2 linked regions of the Homo sapiens genome follow. The protein of the gene in region 1 interacts with the protein of each later gene in a biochemical or structural test. Each region holds a gene or a part of one and is shown in the gene's direction. Other genes may lie near its edges. The genes, in order: CGN and TJP1.

Region 1 (16,612 bases):
TTTCTTATCTTCCCTAACCAGAATAGAAATTGTACTTAGCCAGGAAAAGCCCCAAGTGTTAGTATAATTACATATTATTATTGCTGTTGAAGAGCAAAGTATTTGTAAACAAAGCTCAAGAGAGAAATGATGAGTAATACGCTAAAAGAGCATCAGGGTGAGTGGTCCTTGCTTTTCCCTCCTTTTGCCACCACTGTGGTTTTTTTTTTTTTTTTTGAGACAGAGTCTTGCCCTGTTGCCCAGGCTGGAGTGCAATGGCACGACCTTGGCTCACTGCAACCTCCGCCTCCTGGGTTCAAACGATTCTCCTGCCTCAGCCTCCCGAGTAGCTGGGATTACAGGCGCCCACCACCATGCCCAGCTATTTTTTGTATTTTTAGTAGAGACGGGGTTTCACCATGTTGGCCAGGCCACCATGTTGTTGAACTCCTGACCTCAGGTAATCTGCCTGCCTCAGCCTCCCAAAGGGCTGGGGTTACAGATGTGAACCACTGCGCCCGGCCACCACTGTGGTTTTTAGGGTTTACCTCAATCAAGCCTTACCATTGCATTTATCATAGAGACTTTCTGAAGTACTGCCTCTTTCCTGCTCAAGAACATTTAATAGCTCTCCATTACCTACCAATAAAGCCCACATTTCTTTTTACTTCTTTCTTTTTTTTTTTTCTTAAAGAAACATAGTGTAGCTCTGTTGCTCAGGCTAGAATACTGTGAAAGCCCACATTTCTTTTCTTTTCTCTTTGTCACCCAGGCTGGAGTGCAATGGTGCAATGGAGCGATGTCAGCTCACAGCAACCTCTGCCTCCCGGGTTCAAGCGATTCTCCTGCTTCAGCCTCCTGAGTAGCTGGGATTACAGGCACCCGCCATCATGCCTGGCTAATTTTTTTGTATTTTTGTAGAGACAGAGTTTCACCATGTTGGCCAGACTGGTCTTGAACTCCTGATCTCAGGTGATCCACCTGCCTCAGCTTCCCAAAGTGCTAGGATTACAGGTGTGAGCCACCGAGCCCAGCCGAAAGCCCACATTTCTTATTCTGATATTCTAGGCTTTATACAATCTACCCCAGAATTTACCTATCATCTTATTTACCACTATTCTCTGTCCCTTTGCTCTACAGGCTAACCTTCCAGTTCGCTAAACTGACATGATGCTTTTCTGCCCCTAGGGCCTTTGCACGTTTTCTTGCTGTCTTTCTTCCTTCCTTTCCCCTGCCTGTTTTTTCAAGGCCCAGATTATAAATCACTCTATTCTAGTTGAAAGGGAAGCTTTCCAGTAACACTTCATTTGTGCCATTGATTTGGCATTTATCATATTCTTCCTTAGGCTTGTAGATAATACCAGCAGTTCCAAAACCTTTTAACAAATTCTCCAGCCCTGAGAATCACTTCTCTTTGGCAGGTCCAGTAATCTGGTGAACTAGTTACCTGCCTCAACTTTCTCAACTCCTCACTCTTTCACATCTGTTCTTCCAATTTAAGTTCCAGAACAGAGACTTCACCTTCTCCTCTAAGTTCCAAGTTTTGACTATTTGGCTGTTCTCTTTTTCTCTTTTCCTCTTTCTCCCATCTCATCTTAGTTCTTGAATCTTGTCTCCTTTTCTAGCTTCTTATTAAAACATAACCAAGTCTCTTCTTCTTCTCCTTTCTTTTTTTTGAGATGGAGTTTCGCTCTTGTTGCCCAGGCTGGAGTGCAATGGCACAATCTCGGTTCGCTGAAACTTCCGCCTTCCAGGTTCAAGCAATTATCCTACCTCAGCCTCCCAAGCAGCTAGGATTACAGGTATGTGCCACCACACTCAGCTAATTTTTGTATTTTTAGTAGAGGCGGGGTTTTACCATGTTGGCCAGACTGGTCTTGAACTCCTGACCTCACGTGATCTGCCCGTCTTGGCCTTCCAAAATGCTGGGATTACAGGTGTCAGCCACTGCGCCCAGCCAGTCTCTCCCTCTTAAAAATGAAACCAGCTGGGCACAGTGGCAAATGCCTGTAATCCCAACACTTTGGAGGCCGAGGCGGGTGGATCACTTGAGCTCAGGAGTTCAAGACCAGCCTGGACAATATGGCAAAACCCCTTCTCTACAAAAAATACAAAAATTAGCTGGGTGTGGTGATGTGCACCTGTAGTCCCAACTACTCAGGAGGCTGAGGTGGGAGGATCGCTTGAGCCCAAGGAGTTGAGGCTGCAGTGAGCCGTGACTGCACCACTACACTCCAGCCTGCGTGACAGTGAGACCCTGTCTCAAAAAAAACCAAACACCCCCCCACCAGTCTCCCCACAAAACCCCAAAACCAAACATAGAAGTTGCCCTTTCTTTTACCCTGTTTTCCTTTAAGTCAAGGTACCCTCTCTCTTTCCTTTTTATTGATACACTTCTTATATTGCATTCTGAGTTGAAAGCCTATCACACTGCTGAAACTGACGTCTGGAAGATCACCCATAACTTCGAAATGCCAAATTCCAGTCTCTTCTCCTACTTGAATACCTCTCTTGCATGAACTTCTTTACTTACCTTTCTCAATAACCCCACAATGATCCCGTTTTTACTCCTCATCTGTCCTTTATTTCTCACAGTTTGTTCTGTAGTCCTCTTAGCAAACTTTCATCTATGAGGATGATTCTTAGCTCTGTCTCTAGCCCTGATTTCTTTTCTAGGCTTCATTTCCAGTTGTTTGCTAGACATTTGTATGTGTGTGTGGATTTACCACATGCTTTTTTAAAATTTTTTTTGAGACGGAGTTTTGCTCTGGTTGACCAGGCTGGAGCACAGTGGCGTGATCTCTGTTCACCGCAATCCCTGCCTTCCGGGTTCAAGTGATTCTCCTGCCTCAGCCTCCCGAGTAGCTGGGATTATAGGCGTGTGCCACCACGCCCGGCTAATTTTTGTATTTTTAGTAGAGACAGGGTTTCTCCATGTTGGTCAGGCTGGTCTTGAACTCCTGACCTCTGTTGATCCGCCCGCCTCAGCCTCCCAAAGTGCTGGGATTACAGGCGTGAGCCACCGCGCCCGGCATCACATGCTTCTTTAAAATATCAGGTTCCAGAGTTAATTTATCATACTCTTCTTCTAGGTCCTCCTCAAATCCTTCCTGTCTCTTGTCCTTTCCATTTCAGCTAGTGGCATCACCTCATTTCCATTATTATTATTATTATTATTATTTCGAGACAGAGTTTCACTCTTGTTGCCCAGGCTGGAGTGCAATGGCACAATCTCGGCTCATTGAAACCTCAGCCTCCTGGGTTCAAGCGATTCTCCTGCCTCAGCCTCCCGAGTAGCTGGGATTACAAGCATGTACCACCATGCCCGGCTAATTTTTGTATTTTTAGTAGAGACAGGGTTTCACCATGTTGGCCAGGCTGGTCTCGAACTCCTGACCTCACGTGATCCGCCTGTCTTGGCCTCCCAAAATGCTGGGATTACAGGCATGAGCCACCGTGCCCGGCCTTAAACGGGTGATCTTTGAGAGAACAATTCAGTAGAGTTGCTAGTGGTATCAGTGAATCTTGGAGAATTCAGGAAAGAATTGCAGGAGAGGAATTTGGTTCCAAATCCACTTTTTTTTTTTTTTTTTTTTGAGATGGAGTCTCGCTCTGTCGCCCAGGCTGGAGTGCTGTGGCTAGATCTCAGCTCACTGCAAGCTCCGCCTCCTGGGTTCAGGCCATTCTCCTGCCTCAGCCTCCCAAGTAGCTGGGACTACAGGCGCCCACCACCACACCCAGCTAATTTTTTGTATTTTTAGTAGAGACGGGGTTTCACCATGTTAGCGAGGATGGCAAATCCACTTCTTTGATGAAACCTGCAATTTACCTAAAACTTTCTCTATTATCCCATTTCATAAAATAAAACTTCTCTCTTTAACATCTATCAGTGTTATTTCTTCTTTCTGGGTATTATATTTGCTATAAATTCTGTTTTTGCTGTATTTATAAACTGGCCAATTTTGCCATTTCTTTTTTGAAAAAATTTTATTATTATTATTTTTTATAAAGATGGGGTCTCACTGTGTTGCCCAGGCTGGTCTTGAATTCCTGGGTTCAAGCGATCCAACTCCAGGGCTCAAGCTATCCTCCTGTTTTGGCCTCCCAAAGTGCTGGGATTAGAGGCATGAGTCATCACGCCTGGCCCTGTAGCATTTCTTAAGGAGAGGGATCACCTGTCTTCTGAACTCTGGAAAAAGACCAGGGTGTCGCCTTTGTCACTTGTGCCTGGATGTACCTCTCAGACTGAGTGCTTCCTTGAAGAACAGATGACGAAGGCGGTGACTCAGAGGCTCCCACTTATCCTTGTAATTCGTGTTCATGGTGCTGGGTAACCACCCAAATTGGTATTTACTACAAATATACTAAGTATCCTAATTGCTAAGGTGTTATCTAGGGGAGTTTAGGCGCTTCCGCCTTTCCAATATCTGAGTCAATTTAATATCCCACATTAAAAAAAAAAATCTCCTTACAAACACTTGGTGGGGGCGAGCGTGGTGGCTCACTCCTGTAGTCCCAGTACTTTGAGAGGTCGAGGCAGGCGGTTCGCTTGAGTTCAGGAGTTCAAGACCAGCCTGGACAACATGGAAACCCCATCTCTACTAAAAATGCCAAAATTAGCCCGGTGTGGTGGTGGGCGCCTGAAGTTCCAGCCACTCAGGAGGCTGAGGTGGGAGGATCGCTTGAGCTTTGGAGGCTGAGGCTGCAGTAAGCAGAGATTGCACCACTGCACTCCAGCCCGGGTGACAGAGTGAGACTCCGTCTCAATGAAAAAAACAAAACTAAAGCAAAAACAAAAACAAAAAAACCCAAAACAGGCTGGGTGTGGTGGCTCACGCCTGTAATCCTAGCCCTTTGGGAGGCCAAGGTGGGCAGATCACTTAAGGACAGGAGTTCAAGACCAGCCTGGTGAAACCCTGTCTTTATTAAAAAATACAAAATATTAGCCGGAAATCAATTGAATCTGGGAGGCGGAGGTTGCAGTGAGCCGAGATTGCGCCACTGGACTTTAGCCTGGGCGATAGAGCAAGACTCCGTCTTAAAAAAAAAAAACAACAAAAAAAACCCAAACCAAAAACCATCCCATGGGAGTGTCTCTGAACCTATTCTGGTTCAGGAGGCTGCACAATAAAAGAAAAATAAGAAAAAATTTTTTAAAAAAAAGTCTTTTAAAAGCCACCCAGTGTTCAGGAGGTGCGCTCCTGGAAGGACATTTCCTCTTCTGTCCCCACCCCCACTACATGTTTTTTGCTGTTCCTCCCCAGGGAACAGGCCGGTTTGATGGCCCTAATCCTTATATACAGCTTGCTCTGGAATGCAGAGACTTTGCATCCCAGCTGAGGAGCTGGTAAGTGGACTTTACTCTGTAGGACCCACACCTAGCTTTTGAAGGCTTGGGGAGGGGCGGAAACCAGCTCCCGAGAATACACCGGAATCTGTGCTGCATCGAAGATTCCTCTTCTACTCCAATAGATACAGGGTAAATATTTGTTGTAACTAAATGAGAACAAAATCCGGAGCCCAGCAACGTAAACGAAGTCAATCTCTTTTTTACATATCTCAACGGTTAACAGCTAGGATGCCAGCTTTAATGTTGTTTTAACTGCAGCTGGTATGAGCGGTCCTGCAGTTTGCAGAGCCCCTAGTTTTTACTCTTTTCTAGGAACTGGGATCAGCATCCCTACTTTTTGAGAGGCTAACTCTGAGGTAAATTTACAACTGAGTCCCTTTCAGTTTAGAACGAAGGTCATTCCTATTTTGGTAAATTTGCGTCCCCGGTTTCCATTCATTCAGTCAACAAATATTTATTAAGCATGTAGTATGTACCAGTCCCTGTTGTAGGCGTTTGGGGTGAAGCAAGGCACAGAACAAGAGATCCTTGCTCTGGTGAAGCTTATCGTAGGACGGGAGGCAAAATGATGAAAATGATTTTTAAAATTATGTTATTAACTAGAAGGTGATAAATATTACATAGAAAAAGATGTCAGGCTGCAAAATGATTGCGGAGGCCACAAGATAAAAGAGAATCCAAGATCAGGGTTCTGGTTCGGGTCAGGGAAAAGGGAGACGAGCTGAGGTGCAGGAGGCTCTGACGTCGGGGGACAACGGAGATATTTTCTGCAGAAAGTGACGAAAGAGCATTCTGGTTCCTGCAGAGGTAGGTGAAGGACAGAAAGGGCCCTGGCCGGCGATTCCCTTGGAGTAAACGGGAGGCAGGAGGCTGTTTTCTAGCAGAGCCCAGAAGATGCTCTGGCCGACGGCTCCCGGGATCTTGGCCGGCGGTCACTCGCGACCATCCGCGACGCCCCCAAAATGGCCTCCGCGCCCCTCGCCGCCCCGCCCCGACGCTCCGCAGCCCGTGGGTCCACGTGACCTGGCCCGCCCTTCGCGGCTGGAGACCCCGGGTCCCGGTCCCCGCACCGGAGGCCCCGCCCCCTACGGGAAGCGGACCAACCGGAGCGGGGAAAGGCGGGGCGGGCACTGACGGCCCGCGGGGGTGGAGCTCCGCAGCGGAGTAACAGGTTGGTGGGAGGGAGAGAAAGGAGGGAGCTCCGAGGACGAGGGGGAGGGCCGGAGCTGCGCGTGCTGCTTTGCCCGAGCCCGAGCCCGAGCCCGAGCCCGAGCCCGAGCCCGAGCCCGAACGCAAGCCTGGGAGCGCGGAGCCCGGCTAGGGTGAGTGGACCCGGTGCGGGCCAGGGCACCCGAGAGGAAAGCGAGCCTTCAGGGGTACCTTTGAGGGGCAGGCATCGAGGCGGTGTGAGATGCCCCTCTCCAGGGCACCGGTGCCGAGTGGGAGACGGGAGGAGGGGAGATTGGGGCGGGGTGGGGTACTGATTAAGAGCCGACCCCTACCCTGAGGTGCCAGATGCAGGTGGCTAGGAAGGTGCCAGGCGAGGGGCACCTGGGGCGAAGGCTGTTCCCAGCGCATGAAAGCGTTTCAGCGCCAGATGTCTCTGGAGGTCAGACGCCAGCCCTAGGGGCAGAATTTCTCTTGGAGACAGCGGTGGCGCGGGGAAGGAGTTAGTTCCAGCTGAGTCGGGAACTGCTGCTGCCTGAGGTGCAGACTCGCCAGGGGAGGGCATCTGCAGGTGCTGCTCGCCTGAGGGTCTTTCCTGCGTCCTGCGGTCTCAGCTGGCCGTTGTCAGCACCCTGGTGGCTTTGAGATGACTCTGAGGTGTGGGATTTTTTCCCCAGCCCTTCACCTCCGGCCGAAGGCAGTTGCGAATCAGAGACACTGAGGGGCAGATGAGAGGGCACCCTCATCTCTTCACCAGGTGTACAACCATTAGGCTTTCACTTTGTGTCCTTTGCTTTCGTGCCAGGGAGAATCGTTCCTTCTTCCTCTTGAGAGAGAGAGAGAGTACTCCCCAAGAGAGGGATATGAGGAAGCAAAGAGCCCTGCCTGGTCCTGCAAAATATTGATAAATATTAATACTTATTTCTCAGGAGGCCCCTTTCTGGGGGCGGATGTCAAACCCTTTCTCCAAGTACCCACATATTTTTTCTGTGGTTCTAGATGGGGACCATTGGATGAGGTTTGGGAGCCCAACCAATTTCCTTGATGTCTGGAGGAATCCCCATTACTCCCTGAACGCCCTCCAGGCATCCCTGACTCCTGAACTGCGGTGGCTGTCAGAATGGCAGCAGGCACTATTGGGGCAGGAAATAGGCAGGACTCATCAGGAGACCACGAGACTAGGGAAATTACAACTCCAAATCCCCAGGACAGATGAAAGGTGCACCTTGGGGCCCAGACAAGACTGGAGGCAAATTTCTTTGCCTTAGGCAGGTAAAGGAACTAGAGTCAACCTTAGCTTGGCCCCTTTGAAGCCCTGCCTGAGGAAGGTTGTTGTAATTGGGAAATAATTAGCAACCGCTATGTTTGTAGATGGGCTGCCTACACATGCCTATGCATCTCTTCTTTCATCCTGGATGTTTGGGAGTCTGGGGGCTGGCTCTGGGGGACTGCTAATCCAGAGATTTGCCCGACTCTAAGAGGATTCTGGCTTCCTAGAACCCTTCCTGTGTTTCCCAGGCTGGCCTGCATGCCATTCCCCTTGTGGGAGGTGATGGGGGTGTAGGGCTCTTCTCTTTGTGCCAGGGAGGGGCGGACTGAGGACCAGGGAGGTGGCCAAAGCAAGTGTGGGATCAGGAATGCAACTTTGGGAACCTCAAAGGGAGGGGTGGAGGGAGACAAAGTCTCCCTGTCACATACTGGCCTGTCACCAGGTTCCTGTTCATCTGCTCCTCCTGCCTGTTCCCTCCCTGCCCTCTGTCCTCTCCTTCAGAGCTTTGGCTTTGCCATCAAGGCTGGAGAGCCCCTGCCTGTGGTCTTGCCCCTCTGCCTCCTCCGTGGTGTGGAATTTCTCTGGTCTGCTTTACAAGCTGCCAGTGTAGTTTCCCCGGCCCTCCCCTTCCCCTTGCCTCTCAAACCAGTCCAGCCAGTTTGCAGGGGCCCAGTTCCTCATTGTGTTTTTTTCCCTACTGGCCAAGCAGCTGTAGCCTGGCTCTCAGGTTTCTGCTCTTTCAGCGGACCTGGGCAGGAGTCCACTTGGGGGATTCTTTTTGGATCCACGGGGAACCTTCTTATCTCTAACTATGAGAAAAAGGGTGCCAAATCATCAAGGTCACTGAGCTGTCCTTTTCTATTTCGACCATTTGCTTTCCTTGTTTCCTCTGAGGGGATTCTAATCTCTATACCTCAAGTTCTCCCGTTTTCTAAATCTGCCAATTATTTAGCATCAAGCATATTGCCTGGCCCTATGTGAATCAGTCCTTCCTCCACACACCCGAAACCACCCCACCCCCACTTCCTGCCAGAAGTCCAGATACCCTGTCACTCCTAGTTGGAAACCAGATGCATATGGCTGGGCCAGAGGTGATGGAATTGGGGCAGGGCAGGCTAATGAGTAACTCAGGGAGAAGTGGCTGTCTGGTACAGGTGTAGAGTGTTCTCCCACTCCTTGCAGGCAGGAAAGGCAGAAGCAGACAGATGCACCTGAATCAACTTGTGGTCTGGTCTCTTCCTGGAGTACAGTTGGTGAGGAGAGCCCTGGACATGTGATAGGGGAGAGAAAAGTAGGGTCAGGCATTGGTGAGGGCGCAGGCCCTGGACTCCATGTTGCCTGGCCCTTGATCACTGTTTACCTGCCTGTCTCTGGGGCTTACGCAAGGCCTCAGAGCTGCCCTGCTGCCTTGGTCCCGCCCCACTGTCCTCTGTAACCAAAGGCGGGTAGGTTTCGGGTTTTCCATGTTGAATCATTTAGAGCCCTGCTTTCTGACCCACCCCAAAGATCCCTTCAGCCCTCCTGGCCCCTGATCCACATGTCCTTGGACTGAAGGTGATTGAGGTTAGGGAGTTAACCTAACCTGGGACCTGGGGGAGTGTTCAACACTGCCTCTGAATAATTTAGTGCTGTTGCTCAAGGGTCTGTGCCCTCTGCTGGGCCTAGGCTGGGAACTCCTTGACCTGGATCTGGAAGATCAGTAGATGTACTGACAGGGTAGACTGCATCATGAATAAATCATATGGCTTCTGAGAGCTGGCAATCTAGGCACTTCTGGTTCTAAGATCATGACTACATAGGGCAGCAAGTCTGGACCAGGAGGAGGTCCTGTTGCTAAGAGGTCCTGTTACTGAGGCAAAGTAGATTTGTCCTGGGCAAATCTCCCCACTGCTGTGCAAGTGGGCTTTAGTTCAGGATACAGCCTTTAACAAATATTTGTTGACATCTACCACGTGTCCAAACACCTGGGGACACAGTGGTTAGCTGCTAGCCATGGTCTTTGCCCTCCAGGAGCTTATTATCTCGTAGGGGAGACAGACAGGAAATAATTACTCCAATAAATGTATAAATATAAACTGGAGTAAACCTGCTGAAGGACAACTATAGAGCGTATAACGTGGATCTGACCTGGTTTGTGGGAGGCTGATTTGTGAGAACTGACCTTGTTTGTGGGAGTGGTGGTCAGGGAAGGCTTCTCTGAAGAAGTGACATCTTTCTATGAACCAGGTGAAGCCAAAAGTGCCTGTTGGACAAAGTAGCATGTGTGAAGGATGATATTTGTTGTCAGCTTTGTGATAGTCACATGCTAAATGTTTTCATGTTTAATATCTTGTTTTTCTCTCCTTTTTATTAAATTAGAACCCAAGTTCAATAAAGTACAAACATCTTTTTTTTTTTTTTTGAGATGGAGTCCTGCTCTGTGACCCAGGCTGGCGGATCTCGGCTCACTGCAGCCTGTGCCTCTCAGGTTTAAGCAATTCTCCTGCCTCGGCCTCCCCAGTAGCTGGGATTCCAGGCGTGCACCACCACGCACAGCTAATTTTTGTATTTTTAGTAGACGTGGGGTTTCACCATGTTGGCCGGGCTGTTATTGAACTTCTGACTTCAGGTGATCTGCCTATCTCAGCCTCCCAAAGTGTTGGGATTACAGGCATGAGCCACTGCGCCTGGCCTAAATAAAGTACAAAGATCTTAAGGGTATAACTTGGTACTTTTTTATCATTGTATATGCCCATATAATTATTTATTATCTCATTCTCACAGATAATAACCTTGTGGGGTATTATCATTATACCCATTTTACAGATGAGGAAACTGAGGCACAGAAAAGTTGTGGGTTTTTTGTTGTCGTTGTTGTTTTTGAGACAGAGTCTTACTCTATTGCCCAAGCTGGAGTGCAGTGGTGCAATTACAGCTCACTGCAGCTTCAACCTCCTGGGCTCAGGTGATCCTCCTGCCTCAGCCTCCTAAGTCGCTGGGACTACAGGTGTGTACCACCATACTCGGCTAGTTTTTTGTATTTTTTGTAGAGATGGGGTTTTGCCATATTGCTCAGGCTGGTCTCAAACTCCCGAGTTCAAGTGATCCACACACCTTGGCCTCCCAAAATGCTGGGATTACAGGCGTGAGCCACCACACCAGAAAAGTTGTGATTTGCCTCAGGTTGCATACATCAGGTGAAGAGCAGAGACAGGATTCCAGACCAGATCCTGACTCTAGCCCAGTGCATTTTCTTCTACTGGATGAGTGGTTTGGAGAACTACTTTACCTGTCTGCCTTCACAAGCCTTTTAAGATGGGGTGATAAAAGTTTGGATGTGCTGTCTCCTCAGGGAGAGTGTATTGCTTTCATCATTTTCTCATGGAGTCCCAGGGCCAAAAAGATGAAGAACAATTCCTAATAAAGGGCTCTTCTCTCCCTGTTCCTTTCTCTTGAGAATTGCTGGGAATTCTAAGAATGCTCTTCTTCAGATAGACCTTCCCCACCAAGCCCTTTGTCACCTGTAGCTCTGCCTCTCCCATCCCTTCCCCTCCCTTCTCATCTCACCCTGGCTTGCTAGCACTTTACAGTCCCTGAAAGGGGCCTTGCCAAGTTTCCTTGGCCCAGAACTCCATGGGGAGGTTGAGTTGGGTATGTTTGTGTTTCTGTCTGGCACGTTAGAGGCTCATCCTCCAGTTTGGTGCTAGGCTCTGGTGGAGACTAGCAGAAGGGGTGGGGAAGCTGAATTTTTTTATTTGCTTGGAAGACAATCTCTCCCCCAAGTTCCTGGAGCCAGAGCATACCTGGAATACATTCCATTTGCTGACTCTGAGCTTTAGCAATGTGGACCTGGGAAGCTGGCCTATGGATGGTGTTGGCTCTGGCTCTCAGCTGAGACAAGTTTACCTGACCTGGGGCCCCTTAAAGTGGCACTTTTTTTTTTTTTTTTTGAGATAGAGTTTCACTCTTGTTGCCCAGGCTGGAGTGCAATGGCGTGATCTTGGGTCACTGTAACCTCCGTCTCCCAGGTTCAAGCGATTCTCCTGCCTCAGCCTCCCGAGCAGCTGGGATTACAGGCCCCCGCTACCACGCCCGGCTGATTTTGTATTTTTAGTAGAGACAGGGTTTCACCATGTTGGTCAGGCTGGTCTCAAACTCCTGACCTCAGGTGATCCACACGCCTTGGCCTCTGAAAATGCTGGGATTACAGGCGTGAGCCACCATGCCCGGCCGAGTGGCACAGTTTTTAAACCACATTTAAATATTTTTGGCTGGGTGCGTGGCTCATGCCTGTAATCCCAGCACTTTGGGAGGCTGAGGCGGGCAGATCACCTGAGGTCAGGAGTTTGAGACCAGCCTGGCCAATATGGTGAAACCCCATCTCTACTAAAAACAAAAATTAGCCGGGCATGGTGGCAGGTGCCTGTAATCCCAGCTACTCGGGAGGCTGAGGCAGGAGAATTGCTTAAACTCGGGAGGCAGAGGTTGCAGTGAACCAAGATCACGCCATTGCACTTCAGCCTGGGCAACAAGAGCAAAACTCTGTCTCAAAAAAAACACAACCTTTTCTTGAATAGATAATACATCTACGTGGTTCCAAATTCAAAAGGGACATAAGAGATATACAGTAGAATGTCCACTCCTTTCTGCTCTTCCAGAGAATAGAAACTCTCCCATCCCTGTTCCTAGTCCTCAGTTCCTCCACCTCAAAGGCATCACTGCTATCAGTGTTTTTAAGTTTCTTTCCAGAAGTGGGATGATATACTTTGAGGTCTTCTATATTTTAAATGAGCTCTGGGAGAGAAGGCCCCCTTTTCTCCAGTGAGATGGAGGTATCTGCTCAGCAGGGTGTGGGTTCTGCCTTCCCTTGGTGGGAGGAAGGGAAGAAGGCACACAGTGTTTTTTTTTTTTTTTTTTGGAGATAGAGTTTTGCTTTTGTCACCCAAGCTGGAGTGCAGTGGCGCAATCTCGGCTCACTGCAACCTCCACCTCCCGGGTTCAAGCAATTCTTCTGCTTCAGCCTCCTGAGTAGCTGGGATTACAGGCATGCGCCACCACGCCTAGCTAAGTTTTTGTATTATTAGTAGAGACAAGGTTTCACCGTGTTGGTCAGGCTGGTCTTGAACTCCTGACCTCAGGTGATCCACCTGCCTCAGCCTCCCAAAGTGCTGGGATTATAGGCATGAGCCACTGTACCTGGCCACATGGTGGTATTATATGTATGTATGAAGATCAAGTAAAATCTTTTTTTTTTTTTTTGAGACAGGGTCTCACTCTGTCACCCAGGCTGGAGAACAGTGGCATAATCACTGCTCACTGCAGCCTCTCTCAAGCTCAAGTGATCCTCCCACCTCAGCCTCCCAAGTAGCTGGGATTACAGGTGTGCACCACCAGGCCCAGTTTATTTTTGTATTTTTTGTAGAGATGGGGTTTCACCATGTTGCCCGGACTGGTCTTGAACTCCTGAGCTCAAGCAGTCCACCCGCCTTGGCCTTCCAAAGTGGTGGGATTACAGGTGTGAGCCACTGCTCCTGGCCATCAAGCAAAATCTTTAAACTTTTAACAAAGCCTAGCTCCCCAGGGCTGTATCAGAGGAAGTGGATTCTTTTAGGTTAGTGAGTCTCAAAGTGTGGTACCTGGACCAGTAGCATCAGTATCACCTGGGGAACTTGGTTAGAAATGCAAATTCTCAAGTCCTAACCCAGACCTACTGAATCAGAAGCTCTGGAGGTTAGGTCCAGCAACCGGTATGTTAAAAGGCTCTCCAGGGGCCTTCTGTTAGTCTGAGAATCAGTGGTTTATCTAGTAGGAACTGACAGGGAAGTCAGCCCGCAGGTAGAAGTTTCATAGTTTCTAGTGAAGTCTCTCAGCCTAAACTCATTTCTTCATCTTCTAGGACTCCTCCTATTTATGGAGCAGGCACCCAACATGGCTGAGCCCCGGGGCCCCGTAGACCATGGAGTCCAGATTCGCTTCATCACAGAGCCAGTGAGTGGTGCAGAGATGGGCACTCTACGTCGAGGTGGACGACGCCCAGCTAAGGATGCAAGAGCCAGTACCTACGGGGTTGCTGTGCGTGTGCAGGGAATCGCTGGGCAGCCCTTTGTGGTGCTCAACAGTGGGGAGAAAGGCGGTGACTCCTTTGGGGTCCAAATCAAGGGGGCCAATGACCAAGGGGCCTCAGGAGCTCTGAGCTCAGATTTGGAACTCCCTGAGAACCCCTACTCTCAGGTCAAGGGATTTCCTGCCCCCTCGCAGAGCAGCACATCTGATGAGGAGCCTGGGGCCTACTGGAATGGAAAGCTACTCCGTTCCCACTCCCAGGCCTCACTGGCAGGCCCTGGCCCAGTGGATCCTAGTAACAGAAGCAACAGCATGCTGGAGCTAGCCCCGAAAGTGGCTTCCCCAGGTAGCACCATTGACACTGCTCCCCTGTCTTCAGTGGACTCACTCATCAACAAGTTTGACAGTCAACTTGGAGGCCAGGCCCGGGGTCGGACTGGCCGCCGAACACGGATGCTACCCCCTGAACAGCGCAAACGGAGCAAGAGCCTGGACAGCCGCCTCCCACGGGACACCTTTGAGGAACGGGAGCGCCAGTCCACCAACCACTGGACCTCTAGCACAAAATATGACAACCATGTGGGCACTTCGAAGCAGCCAGCCCAGAGCCAGAACCTGAGTCCTCTCAGTGGCTTTAGCCGTTCTCGTCAGACTCAGGACTGGGTCCTTCAGAGTTTTGAGGAGCCGCGGAGGAGTGCACAGGACCCCACCATGCTGCAGGTCAGACCCAGCCCCTCCCTGACTTCTAAATGTCAGCCCCTTCTCCCTTCTCATCAGCTTTTACCCACCAGCCATGAGCCTCCTTGCTAATTCAAATAGCCTAGGCAGAAACTCTCTGCCTTTTGTTCTCTACTGTATCTGTCCACAAAATAGGTGATATTCACATGCACAGGATATTTCCATGGGTAAAATTCTAAAGAAAATGGAGCAAGCTATAAAATCACTATTCACAAGTTTGGACCTAGTTGTCATTGCCACAACCATTAACTATGGCTCAGTCACCAGCATTTGCAAGGTCTGCAGAATATGTAAGGCGGGCTTGGAGGATAAGAGCAGTTTCCTTGGTGCTCTTGCCAAAATTCCACACCTTTCTCTCCTACTCAGGAATGTAAGTAAGTGAGGGAGTGACTTTACTTTGAGAGAAACGTAAGTCTGTTTTAAAAGTAAATTATTTATAAACTCTAGCATGTTAACTACCATTAGTGACAAATCACTTGTGGCACAGTTTGCAGCTGGTTGAGATGTTTGTTGAGGAAAATCTGGTTTACAGCAACAGTGCAGAGGTGCATCCTGTGTTGGCCTCTCCCTGGCCTGTTGCTCAGGCCTCCACAGCATGTTTTCCTTGCTGCATTTCAGGATTGTTCATCATGCTTGAAGGGACTTGACCTGAGACTGCCACTTCTCCTCCATCTGAACCCCACGCATGCTTCTGGCCTAATCTTCCTATTTCTTTCTTTCTTTCTTTTTTTTTTCTTTTTCTTTTTTTTTAACAGTTCAAATCAACTCCAGACCTCCTTCGAGACCAGCAGGAGGCAGCCCCACCAGGCAGTGTGGACCATATGAAGGCCACCATCTATGGCATCCTGAGGGAGGGGTGAGTGGGGGCCCCCCCAACAACAGAGGCATACCCCTCCTTCTTTTTCTTCTAGCTTTGTTTCCCATCTTCCCTGATTTTACCCTTTCCTGATCTCTGCTACCTCTTTCCTCCCCTAACCCTTGCTTCTATCCTTTTATCCTCTAGAAGCTCAGAAAGTGAAACCTCTGTGAGGAGGAAGGTTAGTTTGGTGCTGGAGAAGATGCAGCCTCTAGTGGTGAGTGGCCTTCTCTGGATGGGAGCAAGGGTCAAGGTTAGAGCTTTGAGGGCCTCAGGGGATCCAGACTTGGACTCACTCCCTTCCCCCACACCCCCCATATCTCTGGCAGATGGTTTCTTCTGGTTCTACTAAGGCCGTGGCAGGGCAGGGTGAGCTTACCCGAAAAGTGGAGGAGCTACAGCGAAAGCTGGATGAAGAGGTGAAGGTAAGGAAAGGTTAGAGGTGCCGGAGGCATGAAGGAAAACAGGGAAAAAGCCTTGGCCTGGAGATGGGCTGAGCTGACCCTTCTAAGCAATGGAACAAGCATGTTTGTGTCTTATGAGACAAGAGACAAGAATGTGTACTAATTCCAGGAAGGACTTCTGGGGTTCTGTGGGGGTTAGGGAGGCAGAGCACATTAGGAATCTACCTACCTTCCATTCCACTCCCTTTGGGAGTTCCCATCCTGGCTCTGCCCCTTACTAGCTATATAAAACTTAAGAAAATTACTTACATTCTCTGTGCCTCAATTTTTTTTTATCATTATCATAATAATGGCAATAGTAGTAGCTATCATTTATTGAGTATAATTTTGGTAGTATGTACTGTCCTGGGTACTGTAATCATTATAGTTACCCTGTGAATACCTATTCTGGACCCTTTTCTGATGAGAAAACTGAAGATCAGAGAGGCTAAGTAAATTGCCTATGGTAGTAAGTTGCAGAGAGGAATGAAAAAATCCGGGTCAGTCTTATTCTAAAGCCAGTGTACCCTTTTTAAAAACATGTCTTCTGCCTTTCATCATATTGGTTTGTGTGTAGTTGGTGCTCAATAAATGTTGGATTGTAACTTCCCTTGTCTTTTGGAAATCACTGTAGTGTAATGATTAAGTGATTGGCTGTGGAGCCAAACTAACTGGGTTCAAATCCTGGTTCTGTTACTTGTTGGCTGTGTAACTGACCTTGGGCAAGTTCTTTAAATGTTCTAAGCCTCTGTTTCCTAAATTGTAAA
Region 2 (7,000 bases), on another chromosome or scaffold:
TGTCAGGTATTGTTCTAAGTGCTCAATTTATTTAATTCTCACAGTAACCCTATGAAGTGAACTATTATCTCTACTTTTTGGTGAAGAAATTGAAACACAGAGATACGATAACTTTTAAGTTCATTTAGCCAGCAAGGTGGAAAACTACGAATATGTGGTAAAAAATAATATTGTAGACTATTGGAGAAAGTGGCTTGTTCAATGTATGGTGCTAGGACTATTGGTTATCCATTTTTTAAAAATGTTTTCTGCCTCATAGGCTAAAAAAAATCAAAGGAAATCTAAATGACAAAGAGCAATAAAAATTCTAAAATAGAAGAAAATGTAGAATACTACTTAAAAATATGTATGTACCTAGATTGAAAAGAATCCTCCGTGCATGATACTAAAGAAGTAATAAAGGCGGGTGGGTCACTTGAGGTCAGGAGTTCGAGGCCAGCCTGGCCAACATGGTGAAACCCCGTCTCTACTAAAAATACAAAAATTAGCCGGGCATGGTGGCGCGTGCCTATAATCCCAGCTACTTGGGAAGCTAAGGAAGGAGAATTGCTTGAACCTGGAAGGCGGAGGTTGCATTGAGCTGAGATCGGGGCCACTGCACTACAGCCTGGGCGACAAAGTGAGCTTCCGTCTCAAAAACAAAAAGTAATGAAGGAAAAAACGTGGCCGGGCGCGGTGTAATCCCAGCACTTTGTGAGGCCAGGAGGGGCGGATCACGACGTCAGGAGTTCAAGACCAGCCTGACCAACATGGTGAAACCCCGTCTCTACTAAAAATACAAAAAAAAAAAAAAAAAAATAGCCGGGCCTGGTGGCGAGCACCTGTAATCCCCCCTAATGGGAAGGCTGAGGCAGGAGAAACGCTTGAACCCGGGAGTCAGAGGTTGCATTGAGCCAAGATCGCACCACTGCACTCCATCCTGGGCGACAGAGCGAGACGCTGTCTCAAATAAATAAATAAAGGAAAAAAACGTTTTTTATATGTGTGATAAACGTCTGCGTTCGCAGTCAGAATTTTGTTTACTGGTGTATTTGATTTAAGATTATTAGAAAGTTGAAAAACAAGAATTAGGGTGGTTCTCTGCGTCACCAAAGAATTGTTTAAATGTGTAAGAAAGTGGTATGAATCATTGTTAAGAAACGATTTCATTGGTTGAATCACAGAAAAGTGGCTGAAGGAAGTTTCAGTGGCTTCTGTGTTTTCAAGCTGTTTTCCTTTGGAGGAAGCAATAAAATTTAATTTAAGATTGTGCTATTGTATATGCTTATTAGATTTTGCTGAATACTTAAATGTTTTTGTTAAGTCTCGGGAATAGTAGTATTGCCCGCTGTGGCTATCTGAAATTATAATGTAAGTATGAAAATGATTTATGTCATTTTTTACTGTTACACTGATTTACATGATACCCAGGAATTGATTTATTGTATCAAGTGGAGCACAGTGGGCTTTTTTTTTTTTAATTAAGTTCTGGGATCCATGTGCAGAATGTGCACATTTGTTACATAGGTATACGTGTGCCATGGTGGTTTGCTGCACCTATGAACCCATCATCTAAGTTTTAAGCCCCACATGCATTAGGTATTTTTCCTAAATGCTTTCCCTCCCTTTCCCCCCACCACCAACCCGGGTAACAGGCCCCAGGTCCTGGTGTGTGATGTTCCCCTCCCTGTGTCCATGTGTTCTCATTGTTCAACTCCCACTTATGAGTGAGAACATGTGGTGTTTGGTTTTCTGTTCTGGTGTTAGTTTGCTGAGGATGATAGCTTCCAGCTTCGTCCGTGTCCCTGCAAAGGACATGAACTCATTCTTTTTTATGGCTGCATAGTATACCATGGTGTATATATGTACCACATTTTCTTTATCCAATCTGTCATTGGTGGGCATTTGGGTTGGTTCCATGTCTTTGCTATTGTAAATAGTGCTGCAGTAAACATATGTGTGCATGTGTCTTTATAGGAGAATGATTTATATTCCTTTGAGTATATACCCAGTAATGGGATTACTGGGTCAAATGGTATTTCTGGTTCTAGGTCCTTGAGGAATTGCCATACTATCTTCCACAATGGTTGAACTAATTTACATTCCCACCAACAGTGTAAAAGCGTTCCTATTTCTCCACAGCCTCGGCAGCATCTGTTGTTTCCTGACTTTCTAATAATCACCATTCTGACGGGTGTAAGATGGTATCTCATTGTGGTTTTGATTTGCATTTCTCTAATGATCGGTGATGATGAGCATTTTTTCATATGTTTGTTGGCCGCATAAATACCTCCTTTTTTTTGGCAGCATAAATGTCTTCTTTTGAGAAGTGTCTGTTCATATTCTTTGCCCAGTTTTTGATACGGATATTTGTTTTCTTGTAAATTAGTTTCACTTCCATGTGGATTCTGGATATTAGACCTTTGTCAGATCAGTAGATGGCAAAAGTTTTTCTCCCATTCTGTAGGTTGCCTGTTCACTCTGATAGTTTCTTTTGCTGTGCAGAAGCTCTTTAGTTTAATTAGATCCCATTTGTCAATTTTAGCTTTTGTTGCAATTGCTTTTGGTGTTTTCATCATGAAGTCTTTGCCCATGCCTATGTCCTGAATGGTATTGCCTAGGTTTTCTTTTAGGGTTTTTATGGTTTTGGGTTTTACATTGAAGTCTTTAATCCATCTTGAGTTAATTTGTGTATACAGTGGGCTTTTCTTGATATCTTAACGTTTTTGAAACCTTAAGAGCTGCAGAAAATGGCCAAGCTAATGAACAAAAATTAATGACAAGAGTCAGTCATTACATATAGGGATTGTTTCTTGAGTGAGTGATGCAGTGTTTTAATTATGATAGTTACTGATCAATGCATACTTGCTTCATACTGTTTTAAAAGTGAAAAACTCACTGTAGTTTGTGAGAAGTCACTGAAGTTTGGCTGCCAACTTTTAATGATCCTCACTGTAGCAATAATTTTTGTGTGTGTTTGGCATTTTAGACCATCATGGTTAAAGCTTTAATTTATATAGTTGGCTGATAATCCTAACTACATTTTACAACTCTTACATTTGTTTCAGGACAGCTTCATAAGATAGTTATGTTTCAAATTGTGGTGTTCTTCCCCCCCAGGTTATATATTGGCACAAATTACATTATATTATTAGGAAAGACACCAATTTGCCAGACTCAAGCATGTAATCCCTGCACTTTGGGAGGCTGAGGCGGGCATATCACCTGAGGGCGGGACTTCAAGACCAGCACAACCAACACGGCCGAAACCCCGTCTCTACTAAAAATACAAAAATTAGCCGGGTGTGGTAGCACATGCCTAAAATCCCAGCTACTTGGGAGGCTGAGGCAGGAGAATCATTTGAACCCAGGAAGCAGAGTTTGCAGTTGAGCCAAGGTTGCAGTGAGTCGAGATAGCACCACTGCACTCCTGCCTGGGCAACAGAGTGAGAGTCTGTCTCAAAAAAAAAAAAGGAAAGACACCAATAAATAATGAGGTGGAAACCAATCTGTGGCTTCGAGGGCTGTAACGCAGTATATGTAGTACTGCTTCCCGTTTGATTTGAAGGAAAAAAAGTACAGTAGTTCCACTCCCTTTTTCCCCTCCAATCCTGGAAACAAGGTCTGGCTCTGACTTTTACTTGCTCTTTAATCTCTTTTCTGTTTAGAGACCAAATGTAAACTCTGTACAGTTCTAAGAATAAAACTGTGTATAAATATGATAGATCACCATGCTGCTAAGGAAAATGTCTTTAAAAATAATAGTTTTGGTGGAAAATTTGAAGACGTAATCCTGTTACTTGACATACCCCTGATATGATAAAAATTCACCTTACTGAAAGACCATGAGTCCAGCTGTAAATTCATGTGTAGTGCCACCCATCTGTGACTGCTCAGTCATTGCTCATTTCAGGCCTGCCTGAAAGCATTCACGTGCTCAGCATTGTGTATGACTGAGCATTATAGTAGCTGAAGACAAGCTAGTGGAATGAGCCAGTCATTTCTAATTAGCAAAGTTTTGATATGTTAAATAAAAAGATAGTTTATGTCTAGAATGATCCTCCTGGAATATTTGACTGGAACTTGCTTTGCACCTCTGAATTTTGAAAGCAAATCTTGAAAAACCTTTTTACTTTAACAACTTTTAGTCTTGTAGAAAGAAATAGACATTAGGATAGTTTACAGATTTTAAAGTTAATCCTATAAAATTGGTGTGTTGCAGTATTTCTTGCATAAGCCAGCAATAAAAATAAGACTTTTGCTCTCTCTGACCTAGAGTGCATCTTTATTTATTTATTGCAGAGAAGAGTGGCTTCAGGTTGCTCCTTTATGGGCTAGCCAGGTGCTTTATTTCCATTCCTCTTAAACAGATAAATTCTTAATAATGAGCAGTATGTGGGGAATACGTGGGTAGGGAGTTTTATCTTATATCCTAAGCATGGATGAAAATAAATGGACTCTGAATGATTGCCTTTACCACAAGAACACAGCTTTAGATCATGAGAACACCAATGTTACCAAACTTTGTACTGTAAAACACCATTTGAAATGTGATAACAAAACCCTGTCATATATGTAGTGCTCAATACTGAATCTCAGGTGGCCCTCACTTTGGGATAGATCAAGAGATAAGGTTTTATTAGTTTGTGTTGCGGATATATTTCAGTTGATATACTGAAAATACTGGGAAGTGAGTTAACTGGTGAATGATCTCAATTCTAGTTTATCATGTCCGGAAAGGAGGTAAAACAGAAGCTGATATTACTTTCTGTGGATTCTAATTAGGAACATAAGATTAGCGTATACCTGGTTTAATTAATTTTTTTTGACTTACCGAAATATTTTTTCCTTTTTAAAAAAATGTAAATTCCCAAAGACTGAAAAGTTCATTTTTCTTCTTGGTTATCTTAGGAATTTTCACGCTTTTGGAATTGTCATTATCTTGGAGATTGTACAACAGTTTCTGGTAACTGAATATCACCAGTTAAACTTAATATAAGATTAGCTCACTTAATTTAGTATGTAATTTTAAAATTCAGGAGGATACCAGTAATGACTAATTCTTTTTGTTAGCTTAACACATATTAAATGAGTACATTTTGTTTGGGATCCCGATCCTAGAAATTTACAGTTTTCAACTGCTATACGCTGTAATGATCACTTTGTGAATTGTGTAACTCATTGTTGAAGAAACAAAGGATTTGCATTGTTTACTCTTAAAAATACGAGCAAACTTATGGTCATCCTGTAATAACAGAGCATTCTTGTGTGCTTTCTTCGTTGGAGGAGGTGACAAAGTCATTTTCTAAACCTGGGCTTGCTGTTTAGCAGAGTTTCTGTATTTTTCCTTGTTAATGTTTTTAAATGTTTGAATTGAATCTGGATACATTGATGTAAGTGTTTTCTGCATATGTTTGGTATCAATATCTCAATAGGAGGGAGACATTAAGAATTATAAAGTAATTGGCTTATATGCTTAACAGCTCCTTGAATATACTGACAAGGCAAATGAACACTATACTAGCTGTTACTGTTACATTTAGGGTTCAAGAAGCTGTGAAATATGTAACAATTTGGATTCCTAAAGCGGAATTTTACATTCAGCAGATATTTGTTGGTTACCTCGTGTGTACCAATCACTGTTGTAGGTGCTGGAGATGCAGCAGTGAACACATCTCTGTACTGATAGGGCATTTTAATGGTGCGGGTAGAGAGCAGCAAATAAAATTCTGTCCATAATGATAAGTGCTAGAATCCCTAACATGCCTTTTCTGGGTCATATCCTCCCTTCTTCAAAGATTGCATGTATCTTGTCTTCTAGGTTTCTCATTTTCTAGTTTTTCTTTATAGTTACCACCTAATTATGCATTCTGAAAGCACTAGTTTTGACTCTCTGAACTTTGCGCATACAGAATCTTCTAGTGTGAATTCTGTTGTATATGGCTTCTTTTGCTCAGCATTATGTTTGTAAGATTATGTTGTGGAGAACTGTAGCTCATTAGTTTTCATTCAGTTCTTGTACTTCATGGTATTCCATTGTATGAGGACTTTATTGGTTTCGGGAGAAAATAGTTTCAGTTAGACTTCTGTGGCTTTTTGGAGAAAAATATTGTATATGTCTGTCTGAGGGGCAAGAATTAGATATGCATTATGAGGCAGTCATTGGAGTACCAACAGCTGAGCAAAAGGTAGTAAGCTTCTTTTGGTGTTCCTATGATTATCTTGAAAAATCAAGTTGGTCTTAGTTTGGAGGATATTTTATGACTAAGATGTTTGTCATACTAAAGTATGTTTTAGTAGTAAGTATTGAAGTATGTTTTAGTAGTAAGATATCCACTTACCTGACTGATCAGACCACCAAAAGCCACAATCAGGGGAAATACATGAATCTGGCAAAAATGAGTCTGCCTTTCAAAATATAATTGTGGAAGTTTTTCCTGGTAATGTCATATAAAGGTACTAAGGAAGGTTTATTTACTGATTTTTTTTTTCTAACAGTGGCAGTTATTGGAGTATTAATACTTACTGGAGTGTTAATACAGAAGTACACTATTTTGATGCTGTATCACCTATAAAAATCAAGTCAGTAGCCATGGCAAGTAGGCTTACATTTTAGTTATAAGTGTGAGAAATATGTGTCAAAACAAACAGTAGCCCCTTATATTGCATGCTGACTCTGTGACAGATACTGAGCTAAGTGTTTTATGTGCATTATCCCATTTAATCTTCACAATTCTGTTAGATACTACGATTATCTCTGTTTTTACAGGTGAAGGATCTGAGGTTAAATTTACTTGCCATAGGTAATCATACATCTACTTACATGTTCTATAAGTCATACATTCACATCCTTTTATGTTCGTGTGTTGTAAGAGAGCACCAGGGAGAAGAGTATGGGATGGTGTTAGGTAAGTCTTAGACCAGAAAAGCAGCATGAATCATGAAAGCCAGAAGAGAGGGCACTGCTCCATCAGAGCACAAGCCAGTTTGTCTAAAGGAAGCAGCTCTTGCTCAGCCCCAG

Evidence for each region.
Region 2: the proteins of CGN (region 1) and TJP1 form a complex in vitro, tested with the Homo sapiens proteins (2 studies listed by BioGRID and IntAct, with this or other methods).

The regions. Positions count from the first base shown.
Region 1 is NC_000001.11:151,504,865-151,521,476, forward strand, and holds the start of CGN (cingulin), read left to right. Parts: upstream 1-6,522; 5' UTR 6,523-6,651; intron 6,652-13,641; 5' UTR 13,642-13,655; coding exon 13,656-14,528; intron 14,529-15,301; coding exon 15,302-15,402; intron 15,403-15,549; coding exon 15,550-15,619; intron 15,620-15,731; coding exon 15,732-15,827; intron 15,828-16,612. UniProt on the Homo sapiens protein: Probably plays a role in the formation and regulation of the tight junction (TJ) paracellular permeability barrier.
Region 2 is NC_000015.10:29,812,469-29,819,468, reverse strand, and holds part of TJP1 (tight junction protein 1), read left to right. Parts: intron 1-7,000. UniProt on the Homo sapiens protein: TJP1, TJP2, and TJP3 are closely related scaffolding proteins that link tight junction (TJ) transmembrane proteins such as claudins, junctional adhesion molecules, and occludin to the actin cytoskeleton.